Homo sapiens: one gene and its partners. The protein of the gene in region 1 purifies or fractionates together with the protein of each later gene. This does not show direct contact. Each region holds a gene or a part of one and is shown in the gene's direction. Other genes may lie near its edges.

The links.
Region 2: the proteins of PCDHGB2 (region 1) and SPECC1 purify together in Homo sapiens (co-immunoprecipitation; 2 studies listed by BioGRID and IntAct, with this or other methods). This does not show direct contact.
Region 3: the proteins of PCDHGB2 (region 1) and OPA3 purify together in Homo sapiens (co-immunoprecipitation; 2 studies listed by BioGRID and IntAct, with this or other methods). This does not show direct contact.

What each region holds. Positions count from the first base shown.
Region 1 is NC_000005.10:141,355,510-141,363,097, forward strand, and holds the start of PCDHGB2 (protocadherin gamma-B2 isoform 1 precursor), read left to right. Parts: upstream 1-4,484; 5' UTR 4,485-4,626; coding exon 4,627-7,047; coding exon of another isoform or gene 7,048-7,062; intron 7,063-7,588. Other genes in the region: PCDHGA4 (protocadherin gamma-A4 isoform 1 precursor), read left to right, coding at 1-2,112. UniProt on the Homo sapiens protein: Potential calcium-dependent cell-adhesion protein. May be involved in the establishment and maintenance of specific neuronal connections in the brain.
Region 2 is NC_000017.11:20,012,269-20,019,376, forward strand, and holds part of SPECC1 (cytospin-B), read left to right. Parts: intron 1-4,876; exon of another isoform or gene 4,877-5,337; intron 5,338-5,718; exon of another isoform or gene 5,719-5,834; intron 5,835-7,108.
Region 3 is NC_000019.10:45,574,719-45,581,826, reverse strand, and holds part of OPA3 (optic atrophy 3 protein), read left to right. Parts: intron 1-7,108. UniProt on the Homo sapiens protein: May play some role in mitochondrial processes.

The sequences.
Region 1 (7,588 bases):
ACAAACCTGGAGATTCTTCTAGAAGATACAGTGAAGATTTTGCGGGTAGAGGTGGAAATAATCGATGTTAATGATAACCCACCCAGTTTTGGGACAGAACAGAGGGAAATAAAAGTTGCTGAAAATGAAAATCCTGGGGCAAGATTTCCTCTTCCTGAAGCTTTTGATCCGGATGTAGGTGTAAACTCCCTGCAGGGTTACCAGCTCAACTCAAACGGTTACTTTTCCCTGGACGTGCAAAGTGGGGCCGATGGGATTAAGTACCCAGAGCTGGTGCTGGAACGCGCTCTAGATCGCGAGGAAGAGGCGGTTCACCACCTCGTTCTCACGGCCTTCGATGGAGGTGACCCGGTTCGCTCTGGCACTGCCAGGATTCTCATAATACTTGTGGATACCAACGATAATGCTCCCGTGTTCACTCAGCCCGAGTACCACGTAAGTGTTCGTGAGAACGTTCCTGTAGGCACTCGGCTACTCACCGTAAAAGCCACTGATCCAGATGAAGGAGCCAATGGAGACGTGACGTATTCTTTCCGGAAAGTAAGAGACAAAATATCACAGCTATTTCAGTTGAATTCTCTGAGTGGGGATATAACAATATTGGGGGGTCTAGATTATGAGGACTCTGGATTCTATGACATAGATGTAGAAGCCCATGATGGGCCTGGTCTCCGAGCTAGAAGCAAGGTACTGGTGACAGTTCTGGATGAAAATGACAACGCACCAGAAGTCACAGTTACATCTCTCACCAGCTCAGTCCAGGAATCTTCTTCCCCGGGTACAGTAATTGCACTTTTCAACGTGCATGACAGTGACTCAGGAGGAAATGGCCTAGTCACATGTTCTATTCCAGATAATCTGCCATTCACACTTGAAAAGACCTATGGAAATTATTATCGGTTGTTGACACACAGAACACTGGACAGGGAAGAAGTCTCAGAATATAACATCACTGTAACTGCCACTGACCAGGGAACTCCTCCACTGTCTACAGAAACTCATATTTCACTGCAAGTGATGGACATCAATGACAACCCACCCACTTTCCCTCATGCTTCCTACTCTGCTTACATTCCTGAAAACAACCCCAGAGGAGCCTCCATCTTATCTATGACTGCTCAAGACCCTGACAGTGGTGACAATGCCCGAATCACTTACTCCCTGGCCGAAGACACCTTCCAGGGTGCACCTCTGTCCTCCTATGTCTCCATCAACTCCAATACAGGGATCCTATATGCTCTTTGCTCCTTCGACTATGAGCAGTTTAGAGACCTGCAGCTGCTGATGACAGCCAGTGACAGTGGAGACCCTCCACTCAGCAGCAATGTGTCACTGAGCCTCTTTGTGCTGGACCAGAACGACAATGTCCCTGAGATCCTGTACCCCACCTTCCCTACTGATGGCTCCACTGGTGTGGAGCTGGCACCCCGCTCCGCAGATTCCGGCTACCTGGTGACCAAAGTGGTGGCAGTGGACAGAGACTCAGGTCAGAATGCCTGGCTGTCCTACAGCCTACTCAAGTCCAGCGAGCCGGGACTATTTGCAGTGGGGCTGCACACAGGCGAGGTGCGCACCGCACGGGCCCTGCTGGACAGAGACGCGCTCAAGCAGAGGCTTGTAGTGGTCGTCCAGGACCATGGCCAGCCCCCTCTCTCGGCCACCGTCACACTCACTGTGGCTGTGGCCGACAGCATCCCAGATGTCCTGGCTGACTTGGGCAGCCTCAAGCCTTCAGCAGACCCAGACGACTCGGGCCTCACACTCTATCTCGTGGTGGCAGTGGCCGCTGTCTCCTGCGTCTTCCTGGCTTTTGTCACGGTGCTGCTAGCACTCAAGCTGAGACGCTGGCACAAGTCACGCCTGCTTCACGCTGAAGGCAGCAGGTTGGCAGGTGTGCCTGCCTCGCACTTTGTGGGCGTGGACGGGGTTCGGGCTTTCCTGCAGACCTATTCCCACGAGGTCTCCCTCACCGCGGACTCGCGGAAGAGTCACCTGATCTTCTCCCAACCCAGCTATGCAGACACGCTCATCAGCCGGGAGAGTTGTGAGAAAAGCGAGCCTCTTCTGATAACTCAGGATTTACTTGAAACAAAAGGAGACCCTAATCTTCAGGTGAGTCAATCTTATAATAGATCATACCACACTGAAATATAGACAAAGAGTTGTGTAAATGTCTCTCATTTTATATGTAATATATCAAATAAAGTTGCCTCTTTTAATATTTTATTGCTTTAAAGAAAACTGGTGGATGACCTTCCAATAATGATCAACAGTATTTACCACACAAAAATGTTGTTTATTACTTATCCTTTTTGGTCTTCATTCAGTTGTAGTTTCAGCCAGAATTTTCTAATTTTACAACTCTGAGCCACCTCATTTCCTTAAATTTCCTTTTCTGTGCTGGGTGTGGTGGCTCACACCTGTAATCCTAACACTTTGGGAGTGTGAGGAGGACGGATTGCCTGAGCTCAGGAGTTCGAGACCAGTCTGGGCAACATGGTGAAACCCAGTCTCTACTAAAATACAAAAAGTTAGCTAGGCGTGGTGGTGTGTGCCCGTAGTCCCAGCTACCCTGGAGGCTGAGGCATGAGAATTGCTTGAACCTGGGAGGCAGAGGTTGCAATGAGCTGAGATCATGACACTGTACTCCAGCCTGGGCAACAGAGCAAGCCTCTGTCTCCAAAAAGTAAAATAAAATAAAGTAAAATAAAGAATAAATTTCCTTTTCTCTTAGGTGTTCCTGAAAAGATACAAGAGACCTGTAAAATAGAAGGCAATTGTGTAAATTCACATTTACAATATTCTTTCTCATGAAGCTATTGTTGGATCTGGACTGAGGGTTTTTTAATTTCCTATTTTCACACTCTACCATGCTTTGCTTGAAGTTTACTTTTCCTTCCTTGAAAGGGTATTTTCCATTATAACAGGCAACGTCAATTTAAGAATACTGGCAATTTGTGAGTTTAACTTTTAGATATAACTTTAACAGGATATTTTCTCAATGAACTGGTATATTTCAAATATTTTCTTGTTGCTGTTCTGAGATGCACCAGAAGTGACTATGTGTGATTCCTCTGGTGCACTCCTGTGATTATGAGAAATATTTCCAAGCTAATTTCAGTCATATATAAGTAGATTCTAGGAGTAACTTTAATAATTTTTAAATTGCTTATCATGACATCACTATTGAGACTTTCTTGATTTCCAAGGAAAATATAAGTTTTTGGAGTCTTTTCTCTTGTCATCATGTGAGCCTCTTTCAAAGGTTGAGTTACTTGGGTTCTGGACTGATATGATTTACGCTGCTTAGTAAGGTGGCCTCATCCCTATTGCTACAAATTGCTTTCAGATATTTCTGTCATCATGTGGCTCTGGGATTATTTTATATGAGGGAAAATATTTTGTGTGTAGGGGATATACAACACTTTTGTTCTTTGTGCTTTCATTTAGGTTCTGTGAGAATTCAAAATTCATGAATGCATATGCTTACACAAATTAGTGTAATTTGATAACTGGAAGTTGTAGTGATAGACTGTGGAATATGCCTCAATTTGACTTACAAAGGAGAGTTTTAGTTTCTACATGGTTTTGTATTCATAGAAAGTTGTGGTGCAATACATAGAGTAAGCTGGAATATGATATGATGCAGTTACCTGGCTTGGGGAGCAGAAAGCAGAAATAACAAGTGAATGTTGAGAGACAACTTACATCTGAGGAGAGATTGTTTAAAGTAATTAAGCCATAAAATATAATTTGGAAATGCTCAATTGGTCTGAAACTGTGTCAAGCATATTCAGGTGTTGGCATTAGGAATATATTCCAGAATGAGAGTGCCACATGTTTTAAAGGCCTAGGAAAGCAGTAGATAATTTATAACCTAAAATCAAATTTTTTAAAAAATGTGTTTTTGTTAGAATGGGCAGTGGGTTTCTTTTAGCAAATAACAATTTTGATTAAACAAATTGTTGTATATTCATATTACGGACTACTAGATAACTATATTATGGGCCACTAGATAACTATAAGAAATAAATAGGAAAGCTCTCTATGTACTGATATGATCTTTAAGATATAACAACTAAAAAAGCAATGTGCAGAATATGGTATGTTGTATGCTTACATTTGTGTAAAGAAGGAGACAGAATATTTATAAAAATCCGTTGCCCTATACAAGACATATCTCCGGAAGGATACCTAAGAAACTTTAACACTCATTTCCCCTGTGAAAGCATTTCTCCTCATCTAAAGCAGAGATGAAAGGAAGAACCTATGCTGAATGCATCTTTTGAATTTGGAACTATATGAATATTTCACATATTTTAAAACAAATGAAGACTTTATAAATTAAAAAAGAAAAGAAAAGAAAAAAGTTCTTAGCAAATATTGACAAGCCATTAGTGCAGTTTCCTGAGAAAACCTCTGAGCGTCGCTGTTGGTCAAAAGAACGAAGAGAAGCGTTTGGGAGCCTCTTAGAGGGGAACTTCCTGCACAAACCAACCACACAGAGAAGGCCAGTATAGATTCGGAAACAGAAAACAAAAGCAGGAAAAGTGACCTTAGCCCGGATTCTGCCATCCCCGGAAGGCTTATTCCTCCTATGGGCAAAGGAGCAAAGGGAGCCAGAAGATGAAAGCGAGCTCAGGGAGGTGCGGGCTGGTGCGGTGGCTGCAGGTACTGTTGCCCTTCCTGTTGTCTTTGTTCCCCGGGGCTCTCCCAGTCCAGATCCGCTATTCAATTCCAGAGGAGCTGGCCAAAAACTCGGTCGTAGGAAACCTCGCCAAGGATCTGGGGCTCAGCGTCCGGGACTTGCCAGCCCGGAAGCTGCGGGTTAGCGCGGAGAAGGAATATTTCACAGTAAACCCAGAAAGCGGAGACTTACTTGTGAGTGACAGAATAGACCGAGAACAGATATGCGGGAAGCAGCCTCTGTGTGTTCTGGATTTCGATACTGTCGCTGAAAATCCACTAAATATTTTCTACATAGCAGTAATTGTGCAGGATATAAATGATAATACCCCGCTATTCAAACAGACTAAGATTAATTTAAAAATTGGCGAATCCACTAAGCCAGGTACAACATTTCCACTTGACCCAGCCCTGGATTCAGATGTTGGTCCTAACTCACTACAAAGATACCACCTTAATGACAACGAGTACTTTGATCTCGCTGAGAAACAGACTCCAGATGGTCGTAAATATCCTGAGTTGATTCTAAAACACTCTCTGGACAGAGAAGAGCACAGTTTACATCAATTGGTCCTCACAGCTGTGGATGGCGGAGACCCACCTCAAAGTGGCACGACCCAAATCCGAATCAAAGTCACGGATGCCAACGATAACCCTCCAGTGTTCAGCCAGGACGTGTACAGGGTCACCCTGAGGGAGGACGTGCCGCCGGGCTTCTTTGTGCTTCAAGTGACAGCCACCGACCGGGATGAAGGCATAAACGCAGAGATCACCTACTCCTTTCATAATGTGGACGAACAAGTGAAACACTTTTTCAACTTAAATGAAAAAACAGGAGAAATCACGACAAAGGATGATTTGGATTTTGAGATTGCAAGTAGTTACACTCTGAGTATCGAAGCAAAAGATCCTGGAGATCTAGCAGCCCACTGCAGTATCCAAGTTGAAATTCTTGATGACAACGATTGTGCACCTGAAGTTATTGTGACTTCAGTATCTACTCCCCTACCGGAGGATTCGCCACCAGGAACAGTGATCGCCTTGATAAAAACGAGAGACAGAGACTCTGGAGAAAATGGAGAAGTTTACTGCCAAGTGTTGGGAAATGCCAAGTTTATTTTGAAATCTTCCTCAAAGAACTATTACAAACTAGTGACAGACGGCGCTCTGGACCGGGAGGAGATCCCAGAATACAATCTCACCATCACAGCCACCGACGGGGGCAAGCCGCCCCTCTCCTCCAGCATAATTGTCACCCTGCACATCTCCGACGTCAACGATAATGCCCCAGTTTTCCAACAGACTTCCTACATGGTTCACGTGGCAGAGAACAATCCTCCTGGCGCCTCTATCGCTCAAATCAGTGCCTCTGACCCTGACTTGGGCCCCAGTGGCCAAGTTTCCTACTCCATCGTAGCGAGCGACCTGAAGCCGCGGGAGATTTTATCCTACGTGTCCGTGAGCGCGCAGAGCGGGGTGGTGTTCGCGCAGCGCGCCTTCGATCATGAGCAGCTGCGCGCCTTCGAGCTCACACTGCAGGCCCGCGACCAGGGCTCGCCCGCGCTCAGCGCCAACGTGAGCCTGCGCGTGTTAGTGGGCGACCTCAATGACAATGCGCCACGGGTGCTGTACCCCGCGCTGGGGCCTGATGGCTCCGCCCTCTTCGATATGGTGCCACGCGCCGCAGAGCCCGGCTACCTGGTGACCAAGGTGGTGGCGGTGGACGCAGACTCAGGACACAACGCTTGGCTGTCCTACCACGTGCTGCAGGCCAGCGAGCCCGGGCTCTTCAGCCTGGGGTTGCGCACGGGTGAGGTGCGCACAGCGCGTGCCTTGGGCGACAGGGACGCGGCCCGCCAGCGCCTGCTGGTCGCTGTGCGTGATGGAGGACAGCCGCCACTCTCCGCTACGGCCACGCTGCACCTAATCTTCGCGGATAGCCTGCAAGAGGTATTGCCAGACCTCAGCGACCGCCGGGAGCCCTCTGACCCCCAGGCAAAACTGCAGTTTTACCTGGTTGTGGCCTTGGCCTTGATCTCAGTGCTCTTCTTCCTCGCGGTGATTCTGGCAATCTCCCTGCGCCTGCGACTCTCTTCCAGGTCAGATGCTTGGGACTGTTTTCAGCCTGGTCTCAGCTCCAAGCCTGGACCTGGGGTTCTCCCCAATTACAGTGAGGGTACATTGCCCTATTCCTACAACCTGTGTGTTGCCTCACAATCAGCCAAGACAGAGTTCAATTTTCTGAACATAACCCCGGAATTGGTTCCCGCGCAAGATCTCGTCTGTGACAATGCCTCTTGGGAACAAAATACAAATCATGGAGCCGCTGGGGTCCCTTTTGCCTCAGATACTATTTTGAAGGTGAGCTTTAATTAATTTATTTTCACTTCTGGTTTTATTGTTTCACCTAATTTGGGTAGGAAGTTCCACTGCGTATTTCTTTGTCTGTGAGTTAGATTTGGCCAATGTTGTGCCTTAATTGTCTTAATCTTATCTAACTGAATTTTAAGTGTTTTCTCTCTGAAGTGTGAGATTTATTTACCCATGATTGCAAACCTTTATCACATGAGATATTGCACTGTATTTCTTTTTCTTCCTCATCTTTACATTACTTCTCTCTGCAGATTTGTTGCTATTGAGACTTTAGGCAATTAGTTTCACCTTCAGGCTCTTTGTTATTCAAATTTTAGTTTTACTTCCTCTTAGAATCATAATACTTCAGAGTAAAGAGAGTCTTCATTTTAGTAGGCTTTGGAAATTGGGAAACAAAGAAGAAAGACTTTTGCATAATGGCATGGCTTGTTAATCACAGGGCATGGGTAGGACATTGTCCCATTGACTTGAAGACCAACACTCAGTAAGCTAAATGTCTTGGAATCACAAATGTATTTCTAAAGGACAG
Region 2 (7,108 bases), on another chromosome or scaffold:
TATTGATGGTAATTCAGGTTTTCTGCATCCTTAACTTATTTTTTTTCTCTGTTTGACCTGTTGATATGGAGAGTTGTATTGAAGACTCCCATTATGATTCTTGTAGGGGTTTTTGTACTATTTCTATGTTTAATATATATTTTTCTTTAAATGTTGTATTTTTGAAGCTGTTTTATGTGCTTAAAGGTTCACAATTCTTGTATCTTCTTGGTGAATTGTACCTTTTGGGAATAAACGAGCCATCTTATTTAATTTTTTTTTTGTTCATTCTCTTTATATTGCTGTACTTGCTTTTTGTTAGCATTTATATGGAATATCTTTTTCTAGTCACTGATTTTCAATTTTCTGTGTCTTCTTTAATTGTTACTCTTACCATTAGCTTATGGCTGGATTTTGTTTAATTAGTTAATCTTTGTCTTTTAATAAATATTGTGGTAAAATAACATAAAATTTATTATTTATTATTTTTATTTTTACCATTTACTACTTTTAAGTTTACAGTTCCCCAGTGTTAAGTGTGTGCACATTGTTATGCAACCAATCTCCAGAATTTTTTCATCTTACAAAATTGAAGCTCTGTATCCATTACCGCAGCCCCTGGCAACCACCATTCTGCTTTTTGTCTCTATGAATTTGCCTATTTTAGGTACCTTGCATGAGTATCTAATATAGTACCTCATATAGTATTTGTCTTTTTATAACTGGCTTATTTCATTTAATGTAATGCCCTCAAGGTTCATCCATGTTGTAGCATGTGTCAGAATTTTCTTCATTTTTATTGCTAATTAATATTCCATTGAATGTATACACCACATTTTGCTTATCCATATATTTATCAAAGGATATTTATGTTGGTTCCACATCATAGCTATTATGAATAATGCTGCCATGATCATGGGTGTACAAATATCTCTTCAAGACCCTGCTTTCAGTTATTTGGGTATATACCCAGAAGTAGAATTGTTGGATCAAGTAGTACTTCTATTTTTAATTTTTTGATGACCCAGCATAGTGTTTTCCGCAGAGGCTGAACCATTTTATATTCTCACCAGCAATGCGTGAGAATTTCAGTTTCCATACATCCTTGCTAACATCTGTTATTCTCTCTCTTTTTTTGATAGTAGCTATCCTTATGGGTGTGAAATCTTTGTCTTTTAATAGGTAGCTTTAGCCCATTTATATTTATTTTGATTACTGATCTTTTGCGGATTATTCCTGTCATCTTATTTTATATTTTTGATTTCCTTTTTTGAGACGGAGTCTTGCTCTATCGTCCAGGCTGGAGTGCAGTGGCACGATCTCCGCTCACTGCGACCTCCGGCTTTCGGGTTCAAACGATTCTCCCAACCCAGCCTCCCGAGTAGCTGGAATTACAGGCCTGCAACCACTATGCCCGGCTAATTTTTGTGTTTTTAGTGGGGACAGGTTTTAACCGTGTTGGCCAGGCTAGTCTCAAATTTCTGACCTCAAGTGATCTGCCTGCCTTACCCGCCCAAAGTGCTGAGATTACAGGCATGAACCACTGTGCCGAGCTGGTTCATTTCATTCTCATTGCTGTGTATATGCCATTGTATATATCCCTAATATAGATATACATTTGACTTTGATTGGCAGTTGGTTGTTTGCATTTTTGGACTATTATGAATAGTAAGTACATGAACACTCTAGTACACGTCTTTTGTTGAGTGAGTGTGTGCATTTCTGTTGAGTGTGTATCTGGGAGTGGAACTGCTTGGTTGTAGTCTGTGCATGTGCTCGGTTTTAGTAGATACTAGCAAACAGTTTTCAGTACCGGTTGCACCAACTTATTTACCCCAGAAGTATATGTGGTTGCTCCACATTCTTGCCAACTCTTGGTAATTTCTGTCTTTTACCTTTTAGTTATTCTGGTGGATACTGTGGTTTTAATTTGGATTTTCCTGATGATAAATGAATTTGCACTGTTTTGGTACCCTTAGTTTTTCACACATATCTAAACATTTTTTTCTCTTGCTATTAAAAGATAATCTGTTTATGTGAACTCTCCATGAGTAAAGCAAAAAAGAATCTTATCATGATTTTAATTCTGTCCCATATTAAATTTTTGGGTTTTCATACATTATGCATAAACAGTTATTTAGGTAAACTGTAAATTTTTCTGATTATTTACTCATCATTGGTGCTTTTATTTCATTTGTTTTCTTAATGAGTCCTTAAGTGATTATTTGGTTTTGTTTTCAGGGATTCTGTGAATGGTAAACTTTCTGAACCCTTGCATGTTTAAACAATGTTTTTTATTTCACTTTTCCATGTGAATATTCTTGACTGGGTATAGGATTCTACGTTAAAACCTTCTGAATTTTGGAGATATTGCTTTATCTGCTGGTATCTAGGAAGAAGTGCACGCGTCTGACTCTCGTTTCTTTGTAGTTAATGTTTATTTTCTCTGAAGCTTTACAATTTTTTTTCTTTCTCCTTGGTGTTCTAAAATTTAACTATTATTTGTCTAGGAGTGGATTTTTTTTTTGAGATGGAATCTTGCTCTGTCACCCAGGCTGGGAGTGTGGCATGATCTCGGCTCACTACAACCTCCACCTCCTGGTTTCAAGTGATTCTCCTGCCTTAGCCTCCCAAGTAGTTGGGATTACAGATGTGCACCACCATACCCAGCTAATGTTTGTATTTTTAGTACAGACAGGGTTTCACCATGTTGGCCTGACTGATCTCAAACTCCTGACCTCAGGTGATCCACCTGCCTCGGCCTCCCAAAGTGCTGGGATTACAGGCATGAGCCACTGCGCTTGGGCACCACACTGGCTTAAGAGTGGATCTCTTTTGTTCTTCCTGCTCAGCATTTGGTAGTCCGTTTCATTCTAAAGATTAATACACATTTCTATGGCACTGGAGAAGTTTTGAGTGTTTCCTTGCCTCTATTCTATTTTCTGCTTCTGGAATTATTCTTACTTGGGAATTAGAATATCTTGATTTATCTTTCATGTTTCTTGAAATAAGCATTTTTTTCTCTCAAATATTCTGTCTTTTTTAATTTAATTTTTTTTTTTTTTGAGACAGAGTATTGCTGTGTTGCCCAGGCCTGGAGTGCAATGGTGTGGTTCAATGTGACCTGCAACTCTTGGACTCAGGCAATTCCCCTGCCATACCACTGTGCCCAGCGGAAATGCTCTCTTTATCTTTATGGGCTGCATTCTGGGATGTTCCTTGGGCTGGTTTTGCAGGTCACCAATCTAATATTTAGATTTGTTCCGTCAACTCTTTAGCCCATCTCTTGAGTGTTTTTAAATATTGATTATCATATTTTTAACTTTCCGGGTCTCTATTTTTTTTTTTTTTTTTTGAGGTGGAGTCTCGCTCTGTCGCCCAGGCTGGAAGGCAATGGCACTATCTCGGCTCACTGCAAGCTCTGCCTCCCAGGTTCACGCCATTCTCCTGCCTCAGCCTCCCCAGTAGCGAGGACTGCCGGTGCCCACCACCACGCCCGGCTAATTTTTTGTATTTTTAGTAGCGACGGGGTTTCACTGTGTTAACCAGGATGATCTCGATCTCCTGACCTCGTGATCCGCCCGCCTCGGCCTCCCAAAGTGCTGGGGTTACAGGCGTGAGCCACCACGCCTGGCCACGGGTTTCTACTTCTTAAAGTTTAACTTTTGAAATAGGTAAGATAGGCAGGGCGCAGTGGCTCACGTCTGTAATCCCAGCACTTTGGGAGGCCGAGGCGGATGGATCACGAGGTCAGGAGATTGAGACCATCTGGCTAACATGGTGAAACTCCGCTTCTACTAAAAAAAAAATAAAATAAAAAATTAGCTGGGCGTGGTGGCGATTGCCTGTAGTCCCAGCTACTCAGGAGGTTGAGGCAGGAGAATGGTGTGAACCCGGGAGGCGGAGCTTGCAGTGAGCCAGGATGGCACCACTGCACTCCAGTCTGGGCGACAGAGAGCGACTCCATCTCAAAAAAAAAAAAAAAAAATAGGTAAGATAATCAGTGTTCAAAACCAGACTGTATTAAAAAGGCATAAATGAAAGTGAGAGGTGACAGCGTGCTGGCAGTCCTCGCTCGCTCTCGGTGCCTCCTCAGCCTTAGTGCCCACTCTGGCCGCGCTTGAGGAGCCCTTCAGCCCACCGCTGCACTGTGGGAGCCCCTTTCTGGGCTGGCCAAGGCTGGAGCCAGCTCCCTCAGCTTTGCAGGGAGGTGTGGAGGGAGAGGCGCGGGCGGGAACCGGGGCTGTACGCGGTGCTTGCGGGCCAGCGTGAGTTCCCGGTGGGCGTGGGCTTGGCGGGCCCCGCACTGGGAGCGGCCGGCCAGCCGGCCCCAACGGCCCCAGGCAGTGAGGGGCTTAGCACCTGGGCCAGCAGCTGCTGTGCCCGATTTCTCGCTGGGCCTTAGCTGCCTCCCTGCGGGGCAGCGCTCATGACCTGCGGCCCGCCATGCCTGAGCCACCCCCACCTCCTGGGCTCCTGTGCGGCCCGAGCCTCCCTGACAGCACCACCCCCTGCTCCACGGCGCCCAGTCCCATCGACCACCAGAGGGCTGAGGAGTGCGGGCGCAGGGCGCGGGACTGGCAGGCAGCTCCACCTGTGGCACTGATGCCGGATCCACTGGGTGAAGCCAGCTGGGCTCCTGAGTCTGGTGGGGACTTGAGAACCTTTATGTCTAGCTAAGGGATTGTAAATACACCAGTCAGCACCCTGTGTCTAGCTCAGGGATTGTAAACGCACCAATCAGCACTCTGTCAAAATGGACCAATCAGCTCTCTGAAAAATGGACCAATCGGTTCTCTGTAAAATGGAGCAGTCGGCTCTCTGTAAAATGGACCAATCAGCAGGATATGGGTGTGGCCAGATAAGAGAATAAAAGCAGGCTGCCCGAGCCAAGAGTGGTAACGTGCTGCGGTCGCATTCCGCGCTGCTGAAGGTTTGTCCTTTTGATGTTTGGAATGCGTTCTTATTACTGCTCACTCTTTGGGTCTGCACTGTCTATATGAGCTGCAACACACACCTCGAAGGTCTGCAGCTTCACTCCTGAAGCTAGCGAGACCACGAACTCACCAGGAGGAACGAACAACTCTAGATGCGCCCCCTTAAGAGCTGTAACACTCGCCGCGAAGGTCTGCAGCTTCACTCCTGAGTCAGCGAGACTACGAACCCACCAGAAGGAAGAAACTCCGAACACATCCAAACATCAGAAGGAACAAACTCCAGACACACCGCCTTTAAGAACTGTTACGCTCACCGCGAGGGTCCACGGCTTCATTCTCCAAGTCAGACCAAGAACCCACCAATTCCGGACACAAAAGGTGTTCCCACCATTCCTGTCCTCTTACTTCTCTCGCCTTACAAGTAGGTAACCATTGTTGTTAGTTACTTATGTACCTTCCAAAGTTTCTTCATGCAAATACAAGCAAATATGAATCAGATTCTCCATTTCTCCTTTTTTGCACAAATAGTAGCATTATTCTCTATCTGGTCTTCATCCTGTGTTTTTATTTCTTGGTATATCACAAAGATCGTCACATACCAACTGCTTGCTCTTTATAATGTCCCCTTAGGTCTTCCCAAGAATATCTAATAATTTCTTCTATGTGCTCTAGTAATTATCTTTGCTTGGGTTTGTGTTCTGTTGATTCAGTGTCCCTGTTTCATCATACTGAATAAAAACTTGGTGATTCTTTATGTGTTCATCTTCGAAGTTTGAGAATTCCTTTTTTCCTGTCTTACTAGGCGTAGCGTGCCTCCTGTGATTGTTGAAGAGCTGTGGTGTGCTGCTGAGTGGCGTGTGTATTCCATGTGAGGGGAAGGGTCCAACAGTCCTGGTCATTCAGACTGCAGTTCCCCAGGTAATCACCTTGTCAGGTTCTACCTCTGCTGTTCTATCTGCTGTTACAAGTCTGTTCCTGGAAACCTGTTACCATTTCCTTCTGCATAACAGCCTCCTCCCAAGCTTGTATTGGGCTATGGTTTGCTCAGGTAATCTGGTTCTGAGTACTTTTTACTTTTCAGAAATTTCCTAGACATTTTAGTTGGCCATCGGCACTCTTGTTTTCCAGGTTTCTTTTGATTTAGTGTTTTAAAAATGTTTCTACCATTCCATTGAATTTTAAGACACTTGGAAGGCAGAAGTATGTGTTTAGTTTATTGTTTTGGGGACAGGGTCTTGCTCTGTCTCCCAGGTTAGAGTGCATTGGCGCAGTCATAGGTCACTGTAACTTTGAACTTTTGGGCTTAACTGGTCCTCCTGCCTCGGCCTCCCAAAGCGCTGAGATTACCGGCATGGGCCACCATGCCCAGTCCTTGGTCTTTTATAATTTATTTCTGTGTTGGGGGCCCCCAGGACCATGCTCAGATCTGGTGGTTCACTTGGAAGACTCAGCATGTGGTGTACTCACGGCTGTAATTTATTACAGTGAAAGGATACAAAGCACAATCAGCAAAGGGAAAGGTGCATGGGGCCAAGTCCAAAGGAAGCCAGGCACAAGCTTCCAAGCATCCTCTCCCAGTGCAGTCACACAGGATGTATGTGCTTAACTCCCCGAGGAAGGAGCTGTGACAACGCATGTGAAATGCTGTCTACCAGGGAAACTCACTAGAGACCCAACACCCAGGGTTTTTATTGGGGGCTGGTCATGCAGGCCCCCTTTGCCCAGCACATACCACATTCCACGCTACCTGAAGAAAAGCAGGAGTTCAGCATAAACCACACAATAATTTAGGCACAGTGAGTCCCTCTTTCCAGGTTGGATGGTGGGAACCCTTCTGAAATCTAAGTTCCCAGGTGCCAGCCAAGGATTAACCATGCTTTTTATGAGACTTTTTAAGAATAACAGTCTTGGGCCAAGCACAATGGCTCATGTCTATAATCCCAACACTGTGGGAGACCAAGGTGGGAGGATCTCTTGAAGCCAGGAATTTGAGACTAGCCTGGCCAATACAGAAGACCCTATCATTCATTTATTTATTTATTTATTTATTTATTTATTTATTTATTTATTTATTTATTTATTTTAAAAAGCAGTCTTAGGCCTGCTGTGTTAACTCTTTTCTGTAAGATTTTCCTCCTGTGTTCCTCAGAAAAAGATGGACACTTTACCTAGAAATGACTTCTCCCAGTCAG
Region 3 (7,108 bases), on another chromosome or scaffold:
ACTGTCTCAATCTCAAACAAACAAACAAAACACCCTCCCGCACAGCCAACTCTGCGTGAATTACTCTTTGTCTTGCAGTTCTCCTCTCTTGATGAATCAGCTCTGTCTAGGCAGCGGGCAAGGTGAACTCCTTGGGCGGTTACACACCATTCATCCCTCCATCCATTCATTATTTCCTTTAGCTGGTATTTTGTGAGCCTCTGCCCTGTGCCAGGCCTTGTGCTGGCAATGCTGGCGAAACAGCAGGGACCAAACCAGCACCAATCTGTGCCCTCAAGGAATTCCTAGTCCTGCGGGGGACAGACGTATCCCCCAACAGTGGGCAGAGCTGAGATGGGGGAGCCCACTGGGCACCTGACATGGCATGGGGTTCAGGGAGGGCTTCCTGGCAGAGGAGACATCTGAATTGGGACCTGAAGGGTGAGGACAACACCAGGACAAGGCGTAAGGAAAGCACTGGGGCAGAGGGAGGAGCACACACAAAGCCCACATGATTAAGGGAGTGCACTTTTTTTCCCCCTCTGTAAGTTTGGATGCTTAAAGTTTGCTTTCCAGGGCCCGGAATTCTTGGTTGTTCGGTGTTTGGTGGGGTCTTTGTTGGGGCTGCAGCTCTTAGAATGGGAAAGTATTAGATTTCACAGTTACCAAAGTGCTTTCCTGTTAGCCATCTCATTTGACCCCCACAACTGTTTTGTCCCCATGTCCGGAAAGAGGAATGACTTCCTCTGGTTTATAGAAGGGAAAATGGAGGTGTTGAGGGCAGCAGTTAATTGCTCAGGTCATACGCAGAGATTTGTGCCAGAGGCGAAACTTTGGACACTGAATTCCTAGACCCAGTTTGTTTCCTGTCTCTGCCTGTCTTCCAAACACTGTGACATTCTTAGCGTTGTGGTTTAGAAAATGGCTTCTGGAGCTGGGCGCAGTGGCTCATGCCTGTAATCCCAGCACTTTGGAAGGCGGAGGTGGGTGGATCATGAGGTCAGGAGTTCAAGACCAGCCTGGCCAACATGGTGAAACCCTGTCTCTACTCAAAATACAAAATTAGGCAGGTGTGGTGGCGCACACCTGTAGTCCCAGCTACTTGGGAGGCTGAGGCAGGAGAATTGCTTGAACCTGGGAGGCAGAGGTTGCAGTGAGCCAAGATCACACCACTGCACTCCAGCTTGGGCGACAGAGCGAGACTCTGTCTCAATAAATAAATAAATAAATAAATAAATAAATAAATAGGCTTCTGTGCTGGGCGCGGTGCCTCCCACCTATAATCCCAGCACTTTGGGAGGCCGAGGCAGGCAGATCACCTGAGGTCGGGAATTAGAGACCAGCCTCACCAACATGGAGAAACCCCGTCTCTACTAAAAATACAAAATTAGCCAGACGTGGTGGCGCATGCCTGTAATCCCAGCTACTCGGGAGGCTGAGGCAGGAGAATCGCTTGAACCCAGGAGGTGGAGGTTGCAGTGAGCCGAGATCACGCCATTGCACTCCAGCCTGGGCAACAAGAGTGAAACTCTGTCTCAAAAAAAAAAAAAAAAAGGCCGGGTGCAGTGGCTCGCGCCTGTAATCCCAACACTTTGGGAGGCCAAGGTGGGCAGATCACGAAGTCAAATTTCAAGACCTGCCTGACCAACATGGTGAAACCCCTTCTCTACTAAAAATACAAAAATTAGCTGGGCGTGGTGGCACGCGCCTGTAATCCCAGCTACTCGGGAGGCTGAGGCAGAAGAATCACTTGAACATGGGAGGCGGAGGTTGCAGTGAGCCGAGATCGTGCCACTACACTCCAGCCTGGGTGACAGAGCGAGACTCCATATCAAAAAAAAAAAAAGAAAAAAAAAAAGAAAGAAAATGGCTTCTGGAGTCAGACTGACATAGGTTTGAATCCCTACCCAGACTGGTGACTTTGGGTACGTCATTTAGCCCCTCTTAGCTTCAATTTCCGATTCTGTACATTGGGTATTATGTAATGGTCACATTAACTGGGCTTGTACTTTGTGCCACGGCTTGTCTGCAGCACCTTCCAGCCTCTGGCACTGGGTCCTCACCAGTTATGATGAGGTAGATACTATTATTATTATTATTATTATTTTGTGTATATACTATGTATGCATTATGCTGTAAATAATATTTATTGTGTTGTGGTGAGGATTAAGTAAATGGATATAAAATGTTAAGTCAGTGCCTGGCATAGGGTCATGGCTGTCACGTAGATGTTATAGATACAACAGGCAGGAAAAAGCAAAACATCTTGCCCTCAGGTACCTTACATTCTTGTGGAGGAAGCCAGACAATAAATGAAATAAATAGTTGGCTGGGCCCAGTGGCTCATGCCTGTAATCCCAGCACTTTGGGAGGCTGAGGCTGGTGCATCACTTGAGGTCAGGAGTTTGAGACCAGCCTGGGCAACATGGTGAAACCCCATCTCTACTAAAAATACAAAAATTAGCCAGGTGTGGTGGCAGGCACCTGTAATCCCAGTTACTTAGGAGGCTTAGGCAGGAGAATCACTTGAACCCAAGAGGCAGAGGTTGCAGTGAGCCGAGATTGCACCACTGCACTCCAGCCTGGGTGACAGAGTGAGATTCCATCTCAAAAAATAGTTAAAAGATGAAGTATATTAGATAGCAATAATTGCTCTAGGAAAAAAATCAGGGTTGTAGAACAAGGAGTATTTAAAGGAAGGCTATAAGCCTAGATAGGATTGTCAGGGAGAACTCACTGAAAATATGCCAAGGAGGGAGGGAACGAGCAGCATTGCCATCTGGGGGAAGAAACGTTCCAGCCCAGAGGATCCCGCATGCACACAGGACCTGAGGCATGAGCGTGCCTGGCACACAGGACAGAGGAAACTGATGACGGGAAAGGGGGACAGTTTGTATGGGGCCTGTGGGTCACTGCAAATGCCTTGGCTTTACTCTGAGTGGAACAGGACTTACTGGAGGGTTCTGTGCAGCAGAAGGACAATATCAGAGTTCTGTTTTATTTTATTTTATTTTATTTTTTGAGACAGAGTCGCACTCCGACACCCAGGCTGGAGTGCAATGGTGTGATCTTGGCTCACCACAACTTCCGCCTCCCGGGTTCAAGTGATTCTCCTGCCTCAGCCTCCCGAGTAGCTGGGATTACAGGCATGCGCCACCACGCCCGGCTAATTTTGTATTTTAAGTAGAGATGGGGTTTCTCCATGTTGATCAGGCTGGTCTCTAACTCCCAACGTCAGGAGATCTGCCCGCCTTGGCCTCCCAAAGTGCTGGGATTACAGGCATGAGCCACCACGCCTGGCCCGGGAGCAGAGTTTTTAAGGATAACTTGGTGGGTGAGGGGAAGCCAGTGAGCCAGGAGTGCTGATTGGTCAGAGATGAAATCATAGGAATTCAGAGATGTCTTGTGCTCAGTTAGTTCCTGGGTGGCGGTGGGGGAGGGGGAGGGCGGGCACAAGATCAGATGAGCCAATTTTTTGATCTGGGTGGGGCCAGCTGATCCATCAAGTGCAGAGTCTGCAGAATATCTCAAGCACTGATCTTAGGAGCAGTTTAGGGAGGGTCAGAATCTTGTATCCTCCAGCTGCATGACTCCTAAACCATAATTTCTAATCTTGTGGCTAATGTTAGTCCTACAAAGGCAATCTAGTCACCAGGCAAGAAGGAGGTCTGCTTTGGGAAAGGGCTGTTACCATGTTTGTTTAAACTATAAACTAAGTTTCTCCCAAAGTTAGTTCAGCCTTCACTCAGGAATGAACAAGGACAGCTTGGAGGTTGGAAGTAAGATGGAGTCAGTCAAGTTAGATCTCTTTTGCTGTGTCAGTCATAATTTTGCAAAGGCAGTTTCAGGATTACAGGCGTGAGCCACCACGCCTGGCCTCAAAATCTAAAATATTTACTCTCTGCCCCTTTACAGGAAGAGTTTTCTGACCCTGCTCTAGAATAGTATCCCTGCCCTTGTTTTTTGACATTGACATTGGAGCCAGTCCTCTGATTGATAGTGTGTCCCGATGTCTGGAGTCTCCTGATTGCTTCCCCGATTGGATTCATGTTGAACATGTTTGGCGGGAACACCACAGACTCGAGGTGCCTCCTAAGGACATCCCTTCAGGGGACTCCTGAGGTCTATTTGTTCTGTCATTTGTGATGGTGATTTGGATCGCTTGGTTAAGGTGTAACCATGTCAAGAACCTTTCCTTTTCCTCTTAGTAATGAATAACCAGTAGATTTGTTTACAAGGTAGAGCCAGCAGGATTTCCCATGGATTGGGTGTGAGACAGCCGACTGGAGGAGGGGCAGGTTGGACAGAAAGACCTGGAGCTCAGTTAGGGACAGGTCGAGTTGGAGATGCTACCAGATATTGCAATGTACTGGCTTCTTACATTTACACCTTTTAATTACATCATTAGTGTCTTCACACTGCTGATTGCCCTTTGCTGTGGCCCCCAGCCATGGTGATTGGAATTTCCCAGGGTGCACTGGCGGCCCTGCTTTCTCTCAGGTCAGGCGTCCTGAGCTGACCAGCAAATCCAGTATCTGTACCTTTGGCTGAGATACTTTTGACTCAGCAGGCTGCGCCCAGCTGTCTCACAGGAGAGGCTGGAGCAGTAGCTGTGGCTGCCTGAGGAAAGAACAGTACATGCTAGAAGCATAAATCATCGATGATGCACCCTGTTGGGGAGGCAAAGATCTTTTTAAACACAGAATTCCTTTGTTTAAATTATTTTAACCCAAAAGTAAAGGAGGTTGGTGATGTTAGGCAGGTTGAGGCCATGCCTGCAAAGTGCACTTTTGGTGCTCCCAGGGAGGCTGTGAGATATCTCTGGGCAGTAGGAAAATTCCAGCTCATCTGTGTTTATTCCTTTGGCGCGCACTGGTCCTTTTTCTGGTTTATCACACACAGTAGGCAGTAGAGTGACTGGTCCCCCAAAGATGTCCACATCCTTATCCCAAGAACCTGTTGAATATGTTACCATGCACAGCAAAGGTGACTTTGCAAATGTGATCAAATGAAGGATTTGGGGATGGGGAGATGATCCTGAATTATGCAGGTCAGGTCAGTGTGATCACAGGGGTCCTTATAAGGGAAAGAGGGAGGCAAGAGAGGGAATGATTTGAGGGATGCTGCCCCGCTGGCCTTGAAGATGGAGGAAGGGAGGCATGAGCCAAGGAATGCGGGCAGCCTCTGGAAGCTGGAAAAGCCGAGGAGATGGATTCTCCACTGGAGACTTCAGAAAGGAACACAGCCCTGCGGACACCTTGAGATTAGCCTAGTGAAAGCCATTTTGGACTTTTTTTTTTGGGGGGGGGGGGATGGAGTTTCATTCTTGTTGCCCAGATTGCAGTGCAGTGGCACGATCTCAACTCACTGCAATCTCTGCCTCCTGGGTTCAAGCGATTCTCCTGCCTCAGTCCCCTGAGTAGCACCCACCACCACACCTGGCACCCACCACCACACCTGGCTAATTTTTTGTATTTTTAGTAGAGATAGGGTTTCACCATGTTGGCTAGGCTGGTCTTGAACTCCTGACCTCAGGTGATCCACCTGCCTTGGCCTCCCAAAGTGCTGGGATTACAGGCGTGAGCCACTGCGCCCAGTTTTTTGTTTTGTTTTGTTTTGTTTTTTGAGAGGGGGTCTCACATGGTCGCCCAGGCTGGATTACAGTGGCATGATCTCAGCTCCCTGCAACCTCTGCATCCCGGTTTCAAGCGATTCTCCTGCCTTGGCCTCCTGAATAGCTGGGATTACAGGCGCATGCCCTAATTTTTGTATTATCAGTAGAGACGGGGGTTTCACCATGTTGGCCAGCTGGTCTTCAACTCCTGACCTCAGGTGATCCACCCGCCTTGGCCTCCCAGAGTGCTGGGATTACAGGCGTGAGCCACCACAACTGGCCCCCATTTCAGACTTCTGACTTCTGGAACTGTAAAATAATAAATTTAGGGCAGGTGCGGTGGTTCATGCCTGTTATCCCAGCACTTTAGAAGGTCGAGGCAGGAGGATCACTTGAACCCAGGGGTTCAAGACCAGCCTGGGCAACAAAGCGAGACCTTGTCCCTACTAAAAATAAAAAACAATTAGTGGGGCATGGTGATGCATGCCTATAGTTTTAGCCACTCAGGAGGCTGCGGCAGGATTGCTTGAGCCCAGGAGAATGAGGCTGCAGTGAGCTGTGACCGCACCCCTGCACTCCAGCCTGGGTGACAGAGCAAGACCCTGTCTCAAATAATAATAATAATTTGTGCTGTTTTAAGCCACTGCATTTGTGGTAGTTTGTTATAGTGGCCGTGGGAAACAGATACACCATGATCATTCATTCAGGTTGCTGAGGTCATTTTTTCAGAAGTGCTCAGCTCTGTGGCCATTCTTATGAATTTAGGCCATGGACTTGGTTTCAGTTTTCTTTTTCTACATAGCCATCTGATCCAAAGCTTGGTGGCTTACCGTAGTAACTCTTAGCCAGGTGCAGTGGCTCATGCCTGTAATCTCAGCACTTTGGGAGGTTGAGGTGGGTGGATCACTTCAGGCCAGGAGTTCGCGACTAGCCTGGGCAACATGGCAAAACCCTTTCTTTACTAAAAATACAAAAATTTAGCGGGTACCTGTGGTCCCAGCTTCTCAGGAGGCTGAGGCAGGAGAATCGCTTGAACCTGAGAGAGGTGGAGGCTGCAGTGAACCGAGATCGTGCCACAGCACTCCAGCCTGGGCAACAGAGCAAGACCCTGTCTCAAAAAGGCAAACAAACAAAAAACCCAGTCACTCTTAGTTTCTGTTACCTTTGTGGCTTGCCTGGGCTCAGCCGGACAGTTCTTTTGCTGGTTGCTGCTTGGCAGGCTCTCATCCAGGTGCAGGTGGAGGTGGCTGGGCTGGAGTCATCTGGAACTGGCACTGGGACTGGGGAGTTGGTTCCCTCTCAGCGTAGCCTCTGGGCCTCTCTTCTCCACGTGGTCTTTCCTGCAGGGTAGCTGAATATCTCACATGGCTGCTCAGGACTCCCCAACAGCCAGATTTTCATGAGGGAAGAAGCAGAAGCTGCAGGTTATTTAAGGGCAAGGCCTGGAATCTTCCAGCGTCATTTCCACCACACTATTGGTCAAAGCAGCTCCAGGCACAGACCACAGTGGGTGTG